Homo sapiens: one gene and its partners. The protein of the gene in region 3 purifies or fractionates together with the protein of the main gene of each other region. This does not show direct contact. Each region holds a gene or a part of one and is shown on either strand. Other genes may lie near its edges.

Region 1 (4,984 bases), on a different chromosome or scaffold from region 3:
AGGTGGCCGAGGACTTGTCCACTCCCAAGGGAAGGTGCTGGTGGGAGGGGGTGCCACCTCCGCAGCCACGACCCTCGATGCTGACCTGGGTTGCACTGGCATCTCATTGGGCGTGGGGACTCCGAGAGTCCAAAATTGGGTGGAGACATTTGGGGACACAGCTGCCTGAATTCCTCATGGCCAAGGGGGTGGGCAAGGGCTGCAGGGAGGAAGAGTGTCCGCTGTCCTGGCCAGTGCACCAGGAACGGCTTTCTAACCCGGGCAGGAAGGCGTGAAGCATTCAGGATGTGGGGGGCACACAGTTCCCAGTGTGCACCTAGGGGTGATCAGGAGGAGAGGCGCCAGGGCCTCCCCTACCTCCGCCCCAGGGCCACTCCGTAGGCGGGATCCCTACAGATCCTAGCTAGGAAACGCCAGGGAACGGCAGCGCCAGGGAACGGGGTGGGGCCGCTGGCTTCGCCCACCGCCGCGGTGTTGAGGGCTGGGGGTGGCCCTCGGGACTGGTGTGGAGCCTGGGCCTGACCCACTGACTTGGCTGAGTGGGGAGACTGGAGGGTCGCATCCGGAGCTGGGCCCGGGGACGCCCGCTGGCGGGAAGGGTGCGCGCGCGTCGGAGGCCGCGGCTGACCCTGCTCCGGCGCCTCCAGGTACGGCATCAGCCCGGACAGCATCATCCTGTACGGGCAGAGCATCGGCACGGTGCCCACCGTGGACCTGGCCTCGCGCTACGAGTGTGCCGCGGTGGTGCTGCATTCGCCGCTCACCTCGGGCATGCGCGTCGCCTTCCCCGACACCAAGAAGACCTACTGCTTCGACGCCTTCCCTAACATCGAGAAGGTGTCCAAGATCACGTCGCCCGTGCTCATCATCCACGGCACGGAGGACGAGGTGATCGACTTCTCGCACGGGCTGGCGCTCTACGAGCGCTGCCCCAAGGCGGTGGAGCCGCTGTGGGTGGAGGGCACCAGGCACAACGACATCGAGCTCTACAGCCAGTACCTGGAGGGCCTGCGTCGCTTCATCTCCCAGGAGCTGCCAGCCAGCTCGCCTAGCGGCGGCACCAACCGGCCAGACCTCAGCAATAAGGCAGCCCCCGGACCTCACCCCGCGCCGGCCCCCCAGGGGCTGCATGTGGACCCCCGGGCGGCCCAGGGGACCCCGCTCCAACCCAGGGGCTGTGGACGATGTACAGGCAACAGAGCTACGCACTCCTTTCCTTTTGGAAGCAAGAAGAAAATACGTGAAAACAGAAATTAAAGATTTAAAATTTAAAAAAAAAAAAAAACAAAGCGGATTCTTCTAGCTCAGGCACTTACGGATGTATGACCTTGGGCAAGTTATTTAGCTGCTCTATGCCTTGTTTCCCTTGTTTGTAAAATGAGGATAATAATGATGGTGACTTCCTAAGGCCTTAGAAACAGTAAGCTTTCCTGGTAAGCTTTCCATATATGTTAGCTATTACATACTTTTTAAAAACACTTTTTCACTTGTATATTTCAGCCTATGGTACAAAGGGTGAAGTGGCCTACCTCCTTCTCAGCCACATCTTAGGAAATAGAAATCAGCTGGAAGAAAATATAGCAACTTTCCTTTATTTTAGCCTTCAGAACATAAACAAAAAGAAAAATCATTCATTTTCCAGTTACTTAGGCAAGAGTTTGAGAATTTGTTTTTTTACTAAATAAAGTTAACGGCCATTTTAATGGTTTTTTTCAATCGATTTTATCAATGAAACTTTTTATCAAAACAATAAGCAGTTCATGAAAGTACTAAGAACAATAAAAAAAATTAAGAGGGAGAAGCAAAGGTCTTAGACAACATATAAGTTGGATATCAAAGCCCTGGAAAGCTGTGTTTTGCTACCAGTTTTGTTTTTTTTTCTAGCTCTCAGTTCTTGGAACACAGCATCTTGTATTCCACTCCCATTTATCCCAAAACTACTGAAAGGAGTCACATGCCTCTCAACCAACAAAGGACAACTGACCCTGTCTCAATATCCTCCATTCCAATCTAGTTTGTCAGGAGTCAAAGAACTGTACCCAGAGACACACAACTGTAATTGCCCTAAACAATTCAGCCAGCAACTGAAATCATTACATCAAGATGCTATAGCCAACAGAATATAAAAAGGAGCAATTTAGAAAGATGATTAGAAAATGAGGGGAATAAACATAAAGAAGACTGGCAAGCTGAATGCTTTTCCATTCCAAAGTCTAAGATAGAGAACAATATAGATGTAGACCAAGCTAACTGTGATTAGAGCAGATTTTGGCCCATTAAGGGATCAGCTATCAGCCACCTGTATTGGGCCATTGGGGCAAAAGAACAAAAAAATAAACCCAGAAGTTTACTTTTGAGGAACAGGGAATCGAGGTGGGGAGTGAAGAAAAGCCCTGGATGAAGGTTCCTGCATGGAGGACTTGCAGGACTATTGTCCTTTCCAGAAAATGCTGTATCTTTATCTCTTAAATACGTGGAGGGCACTCTTCATGCCCGAACTACCCAGTCCCTTAGTCCCCAAGGAAGCTCTTGTGTGACCTCCTCCTGCCCCACCTCCACCACTGCTTTCCCGTTGTCAGAATTCCCCACCTCCTCCAAAAAGCCAGAGTCCCCGTGCACTGTACCAAGGCTGGGTCTGAGAATGATAACCCTGCCTTCTCCTCTAGGTCAGGCTCAAGGACACGACCCATGCCTTTTATTTCTGGGTCCTCATTACACAGCCGAGCCGGGCACACAGGCGCGTTCAAATAAATGTGGAAGGGAGGACCGGGCGTAGTGGCTCATGCTTGTAATCCTGGCACTTACAGAGGCCAAGGCGGGAGGATCCCTTGAGCCCAGGGGTTCCAGACCAGCCTAGGCAATATAGGGAGGCCTATCTCTATTTAAAAAAAGAAAAAAAAAAATGTGGACGGGAGGAAGAAGAGAGGGGAAAGAGAAATGCTCGCGTAACTAACCATAGGCACCCCACGTCGCCAACCAGATCAAAACTCAAGCTTACATCTACTCAATAAAACAAAGGACCAGGGCCTGAATTTCAATAAGGTTGGTTACGGGACTGGGAAGGCGGCTTGGAAATACCTAGTCATCTCCAATTCTTTTACGGAGGAAGAAAATGATCCCCTAAAGTGTGAGTCCGTGACCGAGTAGGGTCTGGGACACTAATCCGAGACCAGTTTGAACCCGAGCAGAAGGGCGCAGACACCCCTACGAACCACATCCCGGGGCGGATTCTCCAGTTCGGTCGGGTGGGAGGGGGCGGTCCCCGGCACCTACAGGGCCGGGAGAGTGATCCCAGAGGCCTCCCCGCCCAGTACCCGCCGGCAAAAAGCCAGCGGCACCCCCACGCCGCCCGCCGCCTACCGCCCGCCGCCAGGGCCAGGATCCGGACCCAGTCAGGACGCTCACCTTGCTCTCGGGGACGGGAAAACGACCTCTCGGAGAGTACAGTTCTGGCGCGGCTTCGGCGGGCTGGAGCCCAGAGTCTAATTCAAACTGCCCGCAGCCGCCACCGGTGCCCAATTCGCCCGCTTCTGGTCTCAACCAAACTTACCTCCACGCCTATTGGTCACTCTAAGTAGCTGCGGACCAATCCGCGCCTGCGCACTCAGACTGCCGCGTCTGATTGGCCCTTTCGGATGGATTTTAAAAACAAGCCCTCTACTGGAGGTGCCTGCGCCGGAGTTTACTGTTCTTTTTTGTTGTTGCGGGGAGACGGAGACCACGTGCTTTTGCTAATGCTAGACGCGGTTTTGGACCGCTATTTCCGCAAAAGTCAGGGAATGCGCCCGCTGATTAGGAAGGCGTGGTCTATCGCCTACAGCCAGGGGAACTGTGCTGCCTGGTGAAACCTCTTTTAAACTGCACGTACCAATCTACTTAATTAAACGTAAATTTAGGACATAGATACTAGGTGCTGTGTTTGTCATGCATTCTTTATCCGGTGTCGTTCTTAACAATTCTTTGAGGAAAGTATTATCCTCATTTTATTAAAAAGTTAACAGGCTCATAGAAGCTAAGTACAGTAATTTGAAATTGAATCTACGCAATGCAGGATGTCGCTCTTAAATGCTGTCCTTTATGGTTCATATTTCTAAGACGTGATTCTGAACACTTATTTTCCGGGATTAAGGCGTGGGGGGAGGACACTGCATCAGAATTTAAAATTCAGAAGAATCCTCAAAACGGGGTGTAATGCTTTTCGTGAAGCCCACTAGTTTTCTATGTATGTTATATACTCGTTTTATTTCCCTATTAAACTATAAATAAGCTTCTAAAGGCAGAAGCAAAACAATTAATTGTTAAAGTAATAGATCTCTAATGCTGTTGTCTGCCTCAATAGGTACCAAACTTTCCAGCCCCCTGACTTTACCTTTCATTAGACTGTTCCTGCAGTACCCAATTCAAGTGTCACTTTTTTTATAAAACCTCCCTAATCCCACCCACTCCTTAGAGATAATTATTTCCTAGACCTTTCCTGGAACTTGCAAACTTCATGTTTAGGATTTTCGCCGTGTCTTGTCTTGTATTTATGTCTACGTCTGACTCCCCCATCAGACTCAAAAATTCCTTTACAGTAAAATCTGTTTTAATTCATTTTTGCATCCCTAGTAACTTTGCACATAGTAATTTAAAATCCAGATCATCTTGGGAGATAAAACTGCTATTTGGGGAAAGGCCTTGTTCTTACTATCTTCTACCTTCGAATCCCCAAAGGGAGGGGAGAGAGCAGGTAGGGGAGGAAAACTTTTGTCAGACATTGCCATGATCAGTCTAGTGTCTGGTAGTTTTAGAATTTGAACCAAATTGTGTCTGGCTTCAACACAAATTACAATTCCATTGCTTCCCAGAGTAATTATTCAACTATGTATAGGCTGTTTAAGGAAAAATAAACAGCTAGAAAGACAGATAATAGAGGATATTTTTAAGGTTTGAATAAGAAATTTGCATTTACTATTCATTCATTCGTTCTTCAGCAGATATCTAT
Region 2 (5,112 bases), on a different chromosome or scaffold from region 3:
GTTCATGTGTAAACTTATATGACTGTAAAAGAGTATCCGGAAAAATAAGCAGTAAATTATTTGCAGTGGATACCCCATGGGATATATATGGGGTGGGTTTCACTCTTCCCTTGAATTCTTTTGAATGGTTTAAATTTTTGTCAATGAGTGCAACATAGTATTTCTTTAAAACCTGGTATTCACAACTATCTAGTATAAAAGTACACATATTGGCCAGGCACAGTGGCTCATACCTGTAATCCCAGCATTTTGGGAGGCCAAGGTGGGCAGATCGCTTGAGCCCAGGAATTTGAGACCAGCCTGGGCAACATAACAAAACCCCATCTCTACAAAAACACAAAAATTATCCGGCATGGTGGCACATGCCTGTAGTCCCAGCTACAGGGGAGGCTGAGGTGGGAGCACCAATTCAGCCTGGGAGGTTGAGGCTGCAGTGAGCCATTATCACACCACTGCACTCCAGCCTGGGCAACAGAGTGCGACTCTATCTCAAAATAAATAAATAAATAAAACGCATACCTTACGTAGCCAAAATTAACATGCTTCATCCAGGCCCCACCATCAAAATCTCACTATCCAAGGTCCCACTGTCTAAGGTTACTTAGACAGTGGGACACCTCAAAACACATCTTACATTTCTCAGTCTCTCTAGGGGTGTGAAAGGTACTGACACATTTTTTAAACAATATCAGACATGACAAGCCCTTTTTTTTCTTTTTTTGAGACAGAGTCTTACTCGGTCGCCAGGCTGGAGTAGAGTGGCACGATCTGGGCTCACTGCAACCTCCGCCTCCCGGGTTCAAGCAATTCTCCTGCCTCAGCCTCCCAAGTAGCTGGGATTACAGGCGCCTGCCACCATGCCTGGCTAATTTTTGTGTTTTTAGTAGAGACAGGGTTTCACCATGTTGGCCAGGCTGGTCTCAAACACCTGGACTTTGAGTGATCTACCCGTCTCAGCCTCCCAAAGTGCTGGGATTACAGGTGTGAGCCACCACACCCAGTCGACAAGCCCTCTTTTTAAAATATATCCCTGGTCCTCAAAGGCAGTTAAAGCTGTGAGCCACCTATACTAGCTGTAAATTAAAGCTTAAGATTTCACCTGGGTATGTTTCTAAAATAAGAATCCTTAGGAATGTATTATTAAGAGGGGCCAGAGGCAACAGTAATGGAGTCATCACCTTCCTTAACATGTCTGCTTAATATTCAAAAATAAATGTGATCATACCACTCCTTTACATGAATTACCTCCACCAGTCCATACTGTGGGACCAAAGCCAGACAGCCTGCCAGTAAGAAAAGGAATCTAGATTGCAGGATGCGGGGCGGAGAAGAGTTTTTAAGAATGGAGAAATGCATTCCAAACCCAAGTAGCAGGGTTGTATTTGTTCAGGTCAGCTCTGAGCATCATGCGTCTTTTTTTTTTTTTTTTAAGACAAAGTCACGCTCTTGTCGCGCAGGCTGGAGTGCAATGATGCGATCTCGGCTCACTGCAACCTCTGCCTCCTGGGTTCAAGCAATTCTCCTTCCTCAGCCTCCCGAGTAGCTGGGATTACAGGCGCCTGCCACCACACCCAGCTAATTTTTGGTAGAGACGGGGTTTCACCATGTTGATCAGGTTGGTCTTGAACTCCTGACCTCAGGCAATCCACCTGTTTCGGCCTCCCAAAGTGCTGGGATGACAGGCTAGAGCCTACGCGCCCAGCCCATCATGTGTCATTTTTATAGTGTGCATAAGTGCGGGGAATGTTAGTAAAGTGTATGGACAATCTGAAAACCCAGTTACACTTCAGTTAAAAGTGTGGATCAGTTAGCTAGAAAATACCTGCGCACGGCGGCTCATGCCTGTAATCCCAGCACTTTGGGAGGCCAAGGCATCACCGGAGGTCGGGAGTTCGAGACCAGCCTGACCAACATGGAGAAACCCCGTTTCTACTAAAAAAAATTACAAAATTAGCTGGGCATGGTGGCACATGCCTGTAATCCCAGCTACTCGGGAGACTGAGGCAGGAGAATCGCTTGAACCTGGGAGGCAGAGGTTGCGGTGAGCCAAGATCGCACCATTGCACTCCAGCCTGGGCAACAAGAGCAAAATTCCATCTCAAAAAAAAAAAAAAAAAGAAAAGAAAAAGAAAATACCTGTGCACACCAACACAAACGAAAGGATGTTGTGTGACTTACAAAAAACCTCACAAGAAGGGGTCCTTTGAGTCTCCACTCCACTTGACCCCTTGCTACTCACAATGTGATGAGTAGACAAACAGTATCTGATGGGCAGCACCCACCACAGGAGAACTTCTTAGAAATGCAGAATCTCAGGACCTGTCCCAGAGCTATGGAAGGAGGGCACACATCTTACCAAGATCCCCAAATGATTCCTGTGCCCAGTGACGTTCGAGATGCACTCCATAGCGCATTCAGAACCATTCTACAAACCACTTTTGAGCTTTCCACTAATTGGGCAGAGGCTGCACACACCATCATTGCAAATCGATAGGGGTTTTGAAGCCCTGGGTGTTTCCTGTTTCTGGCACAGCATGGCAACTGTCCCAGCAAGGGGCAGCCCACGGGAGCTCCTTTGCACACAAGCCCTGCTGCTCCTAAAGGCTCTGGACACACAGGAGACCTCCCAGCCTGCTTGCGGGGGGGGCGGGGGGGACACTCGCTCCTAACAGGTCTTGTTTCAGGTCAGAGATAACTGGATTAGAAACCTGACTTGGGTCCCTAATTGCAGAAAGAGTGAAGGAGGACAAAGAAGAAATGGGGAAGGAAGGCACCTGAGCTAGCACTTTCCTGTCTGAGGCTAGGGCGGGTATGACGGGCAGGCCAGGTGCCCACACTTGGCCGGCTGAGAGGGGTACGAGGCAGGCTGCTCAGGGCAGAGAAGAGGAATGCAAGATGGAATCAGGTGTACACCTGTGAGACGGACCCCCAGGTGGGCCCCTCCAAGGTCAAGGGAGGAGATGAGGACTTGAGTGAGGCTGAGCCAGCTTCTGGAGAGAGGGGCTACCAGACAGAGAGCGAGAGAGGCGCTCAGACATCAGACGGACAGACAGAGGCTGACGGCAGGAGGCTCAGAGGGCCCAACGTCAGCCCGCCGGGCAGGCTCCCCAGGCAGACAGACAGGACGGGGCCCACCGCCCAAGGCCCGACTCACAGGTGCGCGATGCCCGCCTTGCGCACCGCCGAAGAGATGGCTTTGACTGCTGTGCAGAGCGAGTTGAGCAGCTGGGTCAACTCGCCCGTGCCGCGGGCCTTCCTGCCCTCCTCCATGACGAAGCGGGTCAGGGTGTTGACGTCCGTGTCGAAGGGCGCCTGGTCAGCCATGCTTGAACCGGGTAGAGCGCGGGGCTGCAGGTGCAAGCGGCAGGTGCGGGGCTGCAGGTGCGGGCGGCAAGAGAGGGCAGTAGGCACTGGCCGCAGGTGCGGAGCTGCAGGTGCGGGCGGCAGGTGCGGGCCGCGGGACCTGGCGGGAGGACTGACAGACCGACTGCCGCCCCGAGTGTCCGCAGCGCTCGTGGTGCAACTGGGCCAGGCCAGGCGCCGGCGGGTGAATCGCGGAAACCTTTAGACGCGGGTCGGCCCCCCGCCCCCGGGAACACTCTTGCGCCCCGCCTACCCCGCGGACCAGACCGCGGCTCCGCCTGCTTGGATCTTCAGACAAGGTCGGGGATCCTCCCTGCGGTCTCCCAACCCCCGCCCCCACGCGCCCTGCCGCCCCCTAGTCTTCCTGGGCTGTCGCCCCCCACACACACCCCTCCGTGCCCTCCACCCGCACTGTGGAGCGGGACTCGGGCCATCGGACTCTGCCAGAGAGAAAGCTATGACTGTTTCCTCCAAAATCATAAAACGGAAGTTCAGAAAGGTTAAGTAACTTGCTCAATGCCACCAGCTAGGCAGCGAAACCCGCAGCCAGTCCACATGGCCTGGCTTTAGCTCTGCAGCTCCTGCCCCGTGTGGCTGCCTGCCCCCGCCCCCTGCCCAAGCCCCGTCCACTCTGCCTGGCCTGTCACCTGGCCCTTCTGTCCCCGCTAGGAGACACAGAGTCCCCGTTTCTCACCCATCTGAGGGCCCACGTCTGAATCCTTAATCCAGGCCTCTTCTCAAGATTCCTAGAATTCGAGAGCTATTGAGTATTTGAATTTCCAAGATGTGAGTCTCGCCCGGAAGTTTCCCGGAAAACGGTCGCTGACACAGAGTCCTCGGCTACCACACAAAGGCCAGAGGGCTCCACCGCCCGCATCCTGACCCCCTGGTAGCCACAATGCTGCAATTGATGTGCTGATTCACGAAACAACACCTATTGAGCACCTGCTGTGCTGAACACTGTCCTACCTTCCAGGGGTGGAGCCTGATCCAAACAGACAAAACTCCTGCCCTTTTCGAGTGTACGTTTTCACAGAGAAACAGTAAAAATAAATATATAAACAATAGATTAGTTTGTTACATAAGCCATAAGTACCATAGAGAGAAACGAAATAGAAAAGGAAGACACGGAATGTGGAGGGGAGAAGAGGGTGAGCAGAGGCCTCAGTAAAAGCTTCTCTGAGAAAGGGATATGTGAGCAAAGAGGTGAAGGATGCAACGCGCCGGTGGAGATGGGAAGGAGAGCGGTTTCCTCACCGGGAGAGCCAGTGCACAGGCCCTGGGGTAGGAGACCATGTTTCAGGTTCAGGGAATGGCCAGGAGACCGGTGGAGCTGAAATAGAGCTAGCAAGGGTCAGAGGTGGAGGAGATAAGGCCAGCGGGAGGATGCAGAGGTGAGGTCTAGAGGGCCAAGTGAGGTTTGACTTTGACTAGGAGGAACCCACTGGAGAGTTTGGAGAAGAAGAGAGGCATGGTCTACCCTGTGTCTTCATACTGCGGCTACTGTGTGAAGATCAGACTGAAGACAGTGCCCTCCAGGTTACTAGGAGATAGTGAGCCAGGTGTTAGCAGTGGAGGTGGTGGATTCTGGACATATTTTGAAGGTAGAGCTGATGGGATTCGTTGACAGATGAGATATGTGAGAGACAGGAGTCTCGGATGATTCTAAGGTTTGAGGCCTGAGAAACTAGAAGAATGCAGTTGTCCTCGACTGCGATGGGGAACACCGAGAGGGGCGTGTGCTGGAGG
Region 3 (5,137 bases):
TCAAGCGATTCTCCTGCCTCAGCCTCCCGAGTAGCTGGAATTACAGGCGCATGCCACCACGCCCAGGTGATTTTTGTATTTTTAGTAGAGATGGGGTTTCACCATGTTGGTCAGGCTGGTCTCGAATTCCTGACCTCGTGATCTGCCCAGCTCAGCCTCCCAAAATGCTGGGATTATAGGTGTGAGCCACTGTGCCCAGCCAAGGTAAGAAGTTCTTAACATTGGTTTGTTGGAGAGTTACACACAGAAAACACCACTGCTTAATAGGAACCTGGATGTTTAACTCTTGGCATTCATATTTAAAATTATCATAGAAGAGAGTCAAAGCACCAAATAAGAGGTTGGCTCATATCAGTTATTCTCACATTATGCTACCATAGAAGCTGCACCAATGTATCTGTTTTACCATGCAAAAGTATTTGCAGAAAGGTCTACCAAATGGTGAACAAAATGCGGCATAGCCATGGCATGGAATAAATCCTAGTTAAGCAATAAAAAGGAACCAACTACAGCTACATGTGACAACCTGAATAAACCTCAACAGCTATTCTAACTGAAAAAAGCCAGATGCTAAAGACTATATATTGTACGATTCCATCTGTATGAAATGTCCAGAAAAGGCAGATCTAAACAGACAAAATAGATTAGGGGTTGCTGGGGCTGGGGTAAGAACGGTGAGTGATTGCAAACAGGCCCCAGGGATATTTGGGGAATGATGAAGTGATCTAAAATTGGATTGTGCTAATGGTTGCACCATTCAGTAAATTTACCAAAAATCATTGAATTATACACTTGGATGTATTTTATGGTATGTAAATTATACCTCCAATAAAGCTTTTTTAAAAAAAAATACAGAAGGAAAAGTAAGAATAACTTGAATAAAGATGCTGTTTTCCTCTGGGGGTGGGGTGAATGTAACTGTAGTCTTATTTTTCTAATTTATAGGAAAAAATATAATTTAATGGATAGATGTTTTTCAGTTTTAAATTTTTTGTTCATTAATTTTTGTCTCTAGATTATTGTCATCCATACTACAAGTTTAGTTTTTATTTAATTTGCATGAAATTGATACTTAGCTATTTTAAGTTAATATTTCATAACATTAAGCCTGGAACACATGATTCCTAAGTTCTTCCCCAACCTAAACAAAAGAGAAAACCACTGAGCAGAATAACATGCAAGCTCCTCTATCATTTTTAGACTTGACTTTTTAAATCAGTGAAAGGAAATATGTGATTTGAAACTAATCTAGTTTTAGTCACTGTCGAAATTGAATGGATCATTTATGTGGTCTGTAAATCTATGGCCTTGACTTGGGGTGGCCTGGAGGACTCCAATGTAGTAAATTCCAGGAGGATAGAAATGTGTCTGATTTACACAGGGCTGTGTTTGGCCCAGACCCTACTTCCCCTCCCATCTGGTTCTCCCACACAGAACACAGTGTCCTCAATAAATATTGTTTCAATGAATACATGAATAGGCCCACAAATTTACAGATGTACCAAATAGTTTCTAAAACAATGTACACACACACACACACACTCTCTCTCTCTCTCTCTCTCTCTCTCTCTCATTTTCCAAACCTATATAAATGGCTGTTTTTGTGCTTAGTAAATGACATTCATTTAAACGTGTTAGTAAATTCATGGTAAAATTTTGCCATTATGAAATGTTTTCAATCAATAAATAGCCATATAATTTTGATGTAAATATCTCAGTTCTAAAGATGAGAAACTACTATTTTAAAAGACTTTTACATTCCCATCAAAATCTTCAGTTATTTCCCCTTTCAGTCATTATTCCAAGCAAATAAACACCTCATTTTTCAGGTTTGTCTAAATCTAGCTTACATTTTTTAGCTTTGGCCAAAATTTGGATTACAACTCACCTTCAATGTTGAGCATACTGTAAACAAATAAGCTAACAAATAACATGCCTATCAGTAATTCACAAAATAGCAACAGTATTAATTTCAAAAGTCTCTTTCTAGTTAGGACAAGGGATCAATTTATTTTGTAAATAACAAGAGGAAAGAACCTTCTTATGACGTCGGCCTTATGACGTTGGCCTGGGTCCCAAGAAGTGTAGTTGTTTTCATTCTTTCTGCAAACATTTGAGGAACCACACGGGGATACTCCCTGCCTTGGGCAGAAATTCCTCTGTGTCAGGGGCCTTCCCTCTCAAATTGGGAGTGGGGTGGGGAAGAGAGTGGGCAGCGGGGGAAAAGCATAACAACAGCACCAATTGTGTCTGCCAGGGTACCTGACACTCCTGCCCAGCTCACATATCAGGAAAACCAGACTTCAGTAGCTCTGAATATTTAATGGCATTAGGTAAAATCAAAAGAACAGATTATCTCCTCCCTATCACAAACACAGAATAATTCCTTTTTGTATTCTGACACTTCATCCGAACTATATACACCAAGAAAGTAAAAGAGGTTTTGATTCCTAAAATAAAACAATCAGAATATAATGGGGAGCAGGTACACCTTCAGTTATGTTCAGGGCTTGTTGCTTGTTCTGATCCTTATATTCAATTTTGTCTTCACTTCCAAAAAGGCTGAAAATTCACAGCTATGTTATCATCCAATCTAAAAACTACACTTGCACGGTCCCGTACTAACCTTCAGTAAGATAAGAGTGTTCCTTTGTCTAGCCGCCTAGCACTCTGTAACTTCCACATCTAAAATATCATGATGCTACTCAACATTAAGGAAAAGGTCAAGCAATGGGCTGCTCTTTTTACTACACCTGCGGCTGCAGAAGCCCGCACAAATGAATGAAGACAGCCACCTTCATTCATCTCTGCTCTTTAAAAAATGCGAGCGCAGTGACCTGTCAAAGCCACCACGCTGGAGTTCCTAGGTCAGGGCGTTTACCGCAGGACTTTTCTCCATAGCCTCTGAAATTAGCAGGCAGAAATCGCGGGGACCCCTGACAAACGGATTGTATAACAACAACCTAAATAAATAATCAGGTGTGCGCCGGACTAAGTAGGGGTTCCTCTCTGCGGAAAAGCAGCTCTTCCCAATGGGGAAGAAACTTCTCGCCCAGGAAATTCGAGCCCAGAACCGAGGTTTCCAGGGAGGATTACCTCTTCAACAAGGACCCTTTTACAGGAAATGTCCTTGATGCCAGGAACTCCACTGGGGAAGCCGCTGGAAAGGCACCTGGACACCCACACACATGGAGGGGATGCGGGGGCGCGCCGCAGGGACCGGGCCCGAAGGTGGCCAGACTCGCCTACCTTGTGGGGCGCCCAGCCGACGCGGGGTCCCGGTGCTGCTCCTCCCCTGGGCGATCGGACCTTGGGGCCAGGGTCGGCTGCCAGGGCCCTGCGAGTGCAGCCGCCACCGCCCGCAGGCTTGGCTCCGCCCCGCGGGGCGCGCCCAGGGCAGAGTCCGGCGCCGGTGAGGCCCCGGGGAGGAGTCGCGGCAGGACGCGTACGCCCAGCGCTGGAGAGCCAGGCTCTGCCCCTCACGCCCCTCGCTAGGGTGCTGTACAGGCGGGTGGGGGGAGGGGATCGGCCGCTGCTTTTCAAGAAGGTTCTATTTGCACCCTAAGTTTATAAACTTTTGTTTTTGTTTTTTAAATAATTTTTGATTTTATTGTTTTTAGTATAAATTTATGGAGTACAAGTGCAATTTTGTTGTTTTTTTAAAAAACTTTCTTTTGGAACTTAAAAAAAGTTGCAAAGATAGTAGAGAGAGTCGTCTATATACCCCTCAGTCGGTGTCTCCTAATGCCTACAGCTTCCATAACTGTGGCACATTTGTCAAAACTAAGAAATTCACATTGGGCCAGGTGCGGTGGCTCACGCCTTGGTAATCTCAGCATTTTGAGAGGCCAAGGCAGGCGGGAGGATCGCTTGAGCTCAGGAGTTCGAGACCAGCCTGGGCAACATAGCGAGACCTCATTTCTACTAAAAATATTTTTTAAAAGACATTAACATTGATCTGCCACTATTAACACTACTCCAGACTTGATGTAGCTGTCACTAGCTTTTTGGCTAACGCCTTTCCCTTTCAGGATCCCAGCCAGGATACCACACTGCATTTAGCATCCTGTGCCCTTTGTCTCCTCTAATCCATGACAGTTTCTCTGTCTTTTCTTGACTTTGACAGCTGTAAAGAATTCTAGTAAAGTATTGTGATGAAGTATTCTGGTAAGGTATAGTTTTGTGGGGGTACCTCGACACCCACTCATGTGGGTATTGTCTACTGTTTTTTTCTCATGATGAGACTGGGGGGAGGAAAGACTCAGAGATGAAGTGCCTTCCCCACTGCATCCTCTCAGGGACGATGGCACGATGGCCAGGTGACTTATCACTGGTGACTTGACCTTGATCCCATAGTTAAGGTTGTGTCTGCCAGGTTTCTCTACTGCAAAGCTGTTTTTCTCTTTCCATACACTCTACTCTGAATGGCATGAATGGCATGACTCAATTCAGCTGACACTCAAGATGAGGGCAAGATTAAACTCCATCCCAGAGCAGGGAGTATCTATATGTTATTATTTAGAATGATTCTGTAAGGAAGATTTGTTCCATCTCTCTTGTTTATTCAATCATTTATGTCAGTATTTGTTATGTCAGTATGGACCCATGTATATTTATTTTATACTTTGGGCTAGAATTCAATACTACATTATTAATTTTGTTGCTCAAATGGTTCCAGCTTTGACCACTGGGAACTCTTTCAGGTTGGCTCCTGTGTCTCTCTGAAAGTTCATAAACTTTTAGGATTGTGGGGAAAAAAAAAAGGTGTATTTCCTCCGCCCCCCCTCAACATCTAACAGATTGAGAAAACTGCAACCCAAATCCTTCAATATCCAAGGGCTTTTCAGAATCTTCCTGGGAATCCTATGATTACTGATTCCCACCACAGTTAGAGAGGAATGTTATTTTTTTTTTTTCCTAGCAGATTAACTTGTAGATTGTGACCCAATTGGAGAAGTGAAAGTTGATGGTTCTTAGGTAATTTTTTTGTTAACTAATCCTTGTGGTTCTAGTAAATAGATGTATGTATGTTTACAGACAAATCGTGTTCCAAAGATAGCCATGGATGTTTATTACAAGTTTCAGCATTGAAGAAACCCAGCTGTTGAGGATCATTTGTTACATTGCTTTGGTTTGC
Region 4 (4,447 bases), on a different chromosome or scaffold from region 3:
AAGGCCAACACTTCGCTAACAAGATTCACTTAGAGTCCACCAGTTAATTGTCAACTAAGATCTGCTGAGAATCCCCAAGGTGCTCCAGGATTTTCAGTGTTGCGGTAGCTCTTAGTCTCACTCTGAGTTTTACAGTCCCCTGGGCTGTTATCTGACCGACCTCATAAAAGCAAGACTCTTCTTTTGCTTGATTTTGCATATATGTTTAAAAACTCAAAAGCGAAAGAATTCTAACACTTCCCTTTTTAAAAATTATTTTTAAGGGGCGGGGATTTGTCCATCTTAAACCAATGAAAGAGAGGAATAAAACACTGATGTACTGAGAAGCCCTGATCTTATCCACGGTGTCGAATTTGATATACTATCATGCCCCACTCTTTGGGAGGTCATTGGATTTTCACTAAATCAAACCTCTTTCATTTTATGGCAGCTTTCTTTTCTTTATCTCTTTATTTCATCTCCTTCCTTCTCAAAACACTGTGCTTGACTGAAGGGGAGACAAGCACCACCCCTGTGGAACAAATGCTCACGCTGAAACATCCAGGAGATGTTACGCATGGTGACAAGTTGTCAGTGCTCATCTGGCACAGAAGGCATTTTTACTGGTTGATATTATTTCCCAAATGTTCATCAGTAATTTCATGTGCAAGAATTTTTTTCTCCCCACTTGGCAGAAAGTTCTTTAATGGTAAGATCCACGCTCCTATTTCTTTTATATCTTCCCCCAAATGCATACTACAGTCAGTCTGTTCTTCAAGCCAGGGATTTGGTAAATATCATGGATTGACTTCCTGTATGGATCACTCCTTGAGAGGAAACGTACCCTAAATGAGGTCTACAGAAATGGGCATATGAAAATTTTGGAATGCCCATCTCATCCACCTACACACCTCCACTTCCCCCATCCCACCCTTTCTCAAAGGCATTTTCAGCCTCCTAAGCAAGAAGTAGAAAGCCAACACCAACTGCCAATCTGTAACATGCAGCGCTGTCTGAAGTTTAATTCAATAGGCTAGTAATTAAGTAAATGGATTCACAAACTTCGACTGCATTGTCTTGCTATGGGATGAAACTTTGGAGGAGAATCTATACTAAAACCTTTCTCAAGTCCCCTCGATTACAGCATGAGAATAACAATATCCATCTGGAAGGTTTGTTCTGAGAGTTAAATGTGGCAAGCAAGCGAGAGTGGCTAATTCCAGAGAAAGCTGATACAAGAGGGAATTTAAGATAACCAAAAGAATACCTGCAGCTACAAAGGAGTGGTAAACTGAAGAGGAGGTAACAAGTGAATTATCTACAGATCTACCTCCAAAGAAGCAAAGCAGGAGATGTGAAATGCTATAGAACAGACTGAGAATGGGCAGGGAGTGTACTATGTATATAAACATCATTATATAACTAAATGATAATGGCAGCAGGTAATGTTCAGAGCTTCCTCTATCTTTAAAAGCAGGTTATTGATAAATTTAATGTCAAATAAAAGCAGAAAGCTGCACTGTAACTGGGAATTACTTCTGAACATTTACTATGAGTCTGGCCTAAACTAAGTACTTTATGTATATCATCTCATTTAATCCTCCCAAATCTTAGAAGTGGATCTTCTCATTTTCCCACGCAAGATGTAGAAATTGGGGCTTGGCAAAATTAAGCCACTGTCCAAGGAGACAGCATTAATCTCCTTGAACAAAATGGGGGTGGAGCCAAGATTTGCACTCTAGTGTGACACTGAATTATATTATCCCTCAATCCTACACATGCACACAGAACACATGAATGAGACCTCTGAAATGATGCCATTGGCAAACCACTTATCTCCACCTTTATGTGTTAGCCAGTTGAACAGTACTAAGCAGTAGAAATCCCCACACAACACTCCATGGCCACAAACTTTTCCAAATTGGAATTGAGAAGCAGAGTTCCTTCCTTCCTACCTCCCTTGATCCATTTATTGAATAATTATAGCCTACAAGGCACCAGGGATATACAGATAGAATACACATTCCCTTTTTTTTCTAAAGCAGCTTTGGGATTTAGGGCATGAAAGAAAGAAATTCTTATATAAAAATGATCATGAAGTGTCCCATGTCTTCAATAATGGGCATTGCCCAGGAATTGGTAATTCGTAAATGACTTCCCCTGAATAAACACTTAAGTATGTATAATCTGTGCAATCCAGTGCTTTTCAGGGTCAGATCCTAACTGGTACCCACCAGAGGCAGGAGTCTTACTCAGAGATTAAGAAAGTTACATTTTGAGCGAGAAATTCTACTTCAAATTGCAAAGAAGAGCTCCAGTGTTACGAAGCCTGCCATAATAAACCTGGGCCTCTCCTCACCATCTACCTTTCCAGTCAAATTGTCAGAAGGCTTTATGACTCTTTCGGAATGAAAGAACCAGTATGGGCAATATTTTGGAGTTCTAACTGGGGATGGTTAAATAAGAAGCAGATGCACAGAACCATTAATCAAAACATTTACCACTCAATAACCACCCATAATGACAATTATTCTGAGCATTTTCCTTCCAAATAACTCAAAATAAGGCTGCCAAAATGCTGCCGACTCTGACAGTGGTGTTCATTACCCCAGCTGATGAAATCACAGTGCCAAATAGGACTGCAAACTAAATAGGTGGAGGTGTGGCTAGAATCATGAGTGGACATGTGGATTTATGAACTTTTCAGTGTTCAACCAAGGTACAGAAAGGAGCTTGTAACAATGACACCCCAGCTAAAGGGGACGTCTGTTCTGGGCCAGAGGGAGTGAAAAAGGGACAAAGTCTGGCGAGTGAAAAGGGGACAAAGTCTGGCAAGTGAAAACCAAGTAATAAATATGCACAATGCTAGAGCCCCTAGCCCAGGCCTTTTATTTCGCATCCAGATGGTTCAGCAGCTGAAGAGCTCTGCGGAATGTCTGCATGCCCCTCTCGGCTCAGCTGCTTTCCTTGAGAGGGCATCATAATAGATGCTTTTGGACCTGTGTGCAGACATAGCTGTTGGGGGTCCACAGACTAGGCAGTGACCACCAGTGACTCATTTACTTACTCTACAGCTGACGTGATGAACACCGACAAACCCCACTTGGGCAAAGCTCTCCATTTATGCCTTTAGCTTTCACCATTTGGCAAGTCGGAGCCTAATAACGCCAATGATCAAATTAAAGTGCTCTTTTTCTTCTTTCTTTTCTGCAAATACTTTAATTGGCTGCACAGATTTTCAGGCTCACCATATTGGACTACTTTCAGTATAAAAGGAAAGAGTGACAAGGATAAATTCAAGTTTAGTAAAAGCTCAATAGAAAAAGCAGTTGCAGCCATTTACGAGTTTATATAGGAGAATACTTCCGCCAAAAACCAGTGCTGCTTAGCAGCAAACTGATTACTGTCAGAATGCCTCCTCTCTGCTCAGTGTCTCACTTCTAGCTGGATACCAAAAGCACAACAATATCACTGTGAATGAAATCATGATACAAAAATATAACACGAAAGCTTAAATGCACAGGAAGAAAGTCACATTAAATACATTTGAAAAAATGGCTGGGAGCGGGGGCTCATGCCTGTAATCATAGCACTTTGGGAGGCTGAGGCAGGTGGATCACAAGGTCAGGAGATCGGGGCCATCCTGGCTAACACGTTGAAACCCTGTCTCTACTAAAAATACAAAAAAAAAAAAAAAAATAGCTAGGTGTGGTGGCGCACACCTGTAATCCCAGCTACTCGGGAGGCTGAGGCAGAAGTGTTGCTTGAACCTGGGAGGCAGAGGTTGCAGTGTGCCGAGATCATGCCATTGCACTCCAGCCCAGGAGAGAGCGAGAGACTCCGTATCAAAAAAAAAAAAAAAAAGAAAGAAAAAGAAAAATAACAACCTTTGTCAACTACACTATAATATTTAACTAAGGGAATCCTATCAGCGTTTATTCGAAAATGTAAGCAACCTTTATTATTTTACTATCCTGAAGGATGTAATAAACCCATGCTTTTGTTCAACCTAATAACTGGTAGATTACCCAATCAAGTAGTTAACTCAGGTTAGCTACAGGAAAAAAAAAACAAAAAACAAAAAACACAACAACAAAAAAACGCCATTAGCCTGGCACAATGTGCATTCAGTAACCTGTAATCAACTACTAAGTAAATTACAGAAGCAGAAAACAGAGCTGCATGTTTGTTACAAAAAAAAAAAAAAAGGAGAAAGCTTATAACAACTTCCACTTCTTAAGCCATATTGACTCACATTAATTTAGGATGCCTGAGGCTATGAGTATGGTACCCTGAGGTGTAAGTGAAGGTGATCTTCTCTTCTCACGTCTATGAACAATATTTTCCCAACTTTGTTTTTAAAGTGAGAATTAGGGTATAGATAGATGCTTTGTAATTTTTCCATCCAAAAGCTTGAATAAATGGTTAATTGCTGACTTAAATTGCAATAAAGAAGTGTCCTAATTTC

Evidence for each region. The genes of interacting proteins can lie anywhere in the genome.
Region 1: the proteins of CCDC68 (region 3) and CENPF purify together in Homo sapiens (affinity purification with mass spectrometry; 3 studies listed by BioGRID and IntAct, with this or other methods). This does not show direct contact.
Region 2: the proteins of CCDC68 (region 3) and FBP1 purify together in Homo sapiens (affinity purification with mass spectrometry; 3 studies listed by BioGRID and IntAct, with this or other methods). This does not show direct contact.
Region 4: the proteins of CCDC68 (region 3) and NIN purify together in Homo sapiens (affinity purification with mass spectrometry; 3 studies listed by BioGRID and IntAct, with this or other methods). This does not show direct contact.

What each region holds. Positions count from the first base shown.
Region 1 is NC_000001.11:214,601,743-214,606,726, reverse strand, and holds the start of CENPF (centromere protein F), read right to left. Parts: upstream 3,533-4,984; 5' UTR 3,406-3,532; intron 1,271-3,405; exon of another isoform or gene 648-1,270; intron 1-647. UniProt on the Homo sapiens protein: Required for kinetochore function and chromosome segregation in mitosis. Required for kinetochore localization of dynein, LIS1, NDE1 and NDEL1.
Region 2 is NC_000009.12:94,635,987-94,641,098, forward strand, and holds the start of FBP1 (fructose-1,6-bisphosphatase 1), read right to left. Parts: upstream 3,533-5,112; 5' UTR 3,325-3,532; coding exon 3,155-3,324; intron 1-3,154. UniProt on the Homo sapiens protein: Catalyzes the hydrolysis of fructose 1,6-bisphosphate to fructose 6-phosphate in the presence of divalent cations, acting as a rate-limiting enzyme in gluconeogenesis. Plays a role in regulating glucose sensing and insulin secretion of pancreatic beta-cells.
Region 3 is NC_000018.10:54,956,087-54,961,223, forward strand, and holds the start of CCDC68 (coiled-coil domain-containing protein 68), read right to left. Parts: upstream 3,376-5,137; 5' UTR 3,250-3,375; exon of another isoform or gene 3,097-3,249; intron 1,963-3,096; exon of another isoform or gene 1,889-1,962; intron 1-1,888. UniProt on the Homo sapiens protein: Centriolar protein required for centriole subdistal appendage assembly and microtubule anchoring in interphase cells. Together with CCDC120, cooperate with subdistal appendage components ODF2, NIN and CEP170 for hierarchical subdistal appendage assembly.
Region 4 is NC_000014.9:50,823,931-50,828,377, forward strand, and holds part of NIN (ninein), read right to left. Parts: intron 1-4,447. UniProt on the Homo sapiens protein: Centrosomal protein required in the positioning and anchorage of the microtubule minus-end in epithelial cells. May also act as a centrosome maturation factor.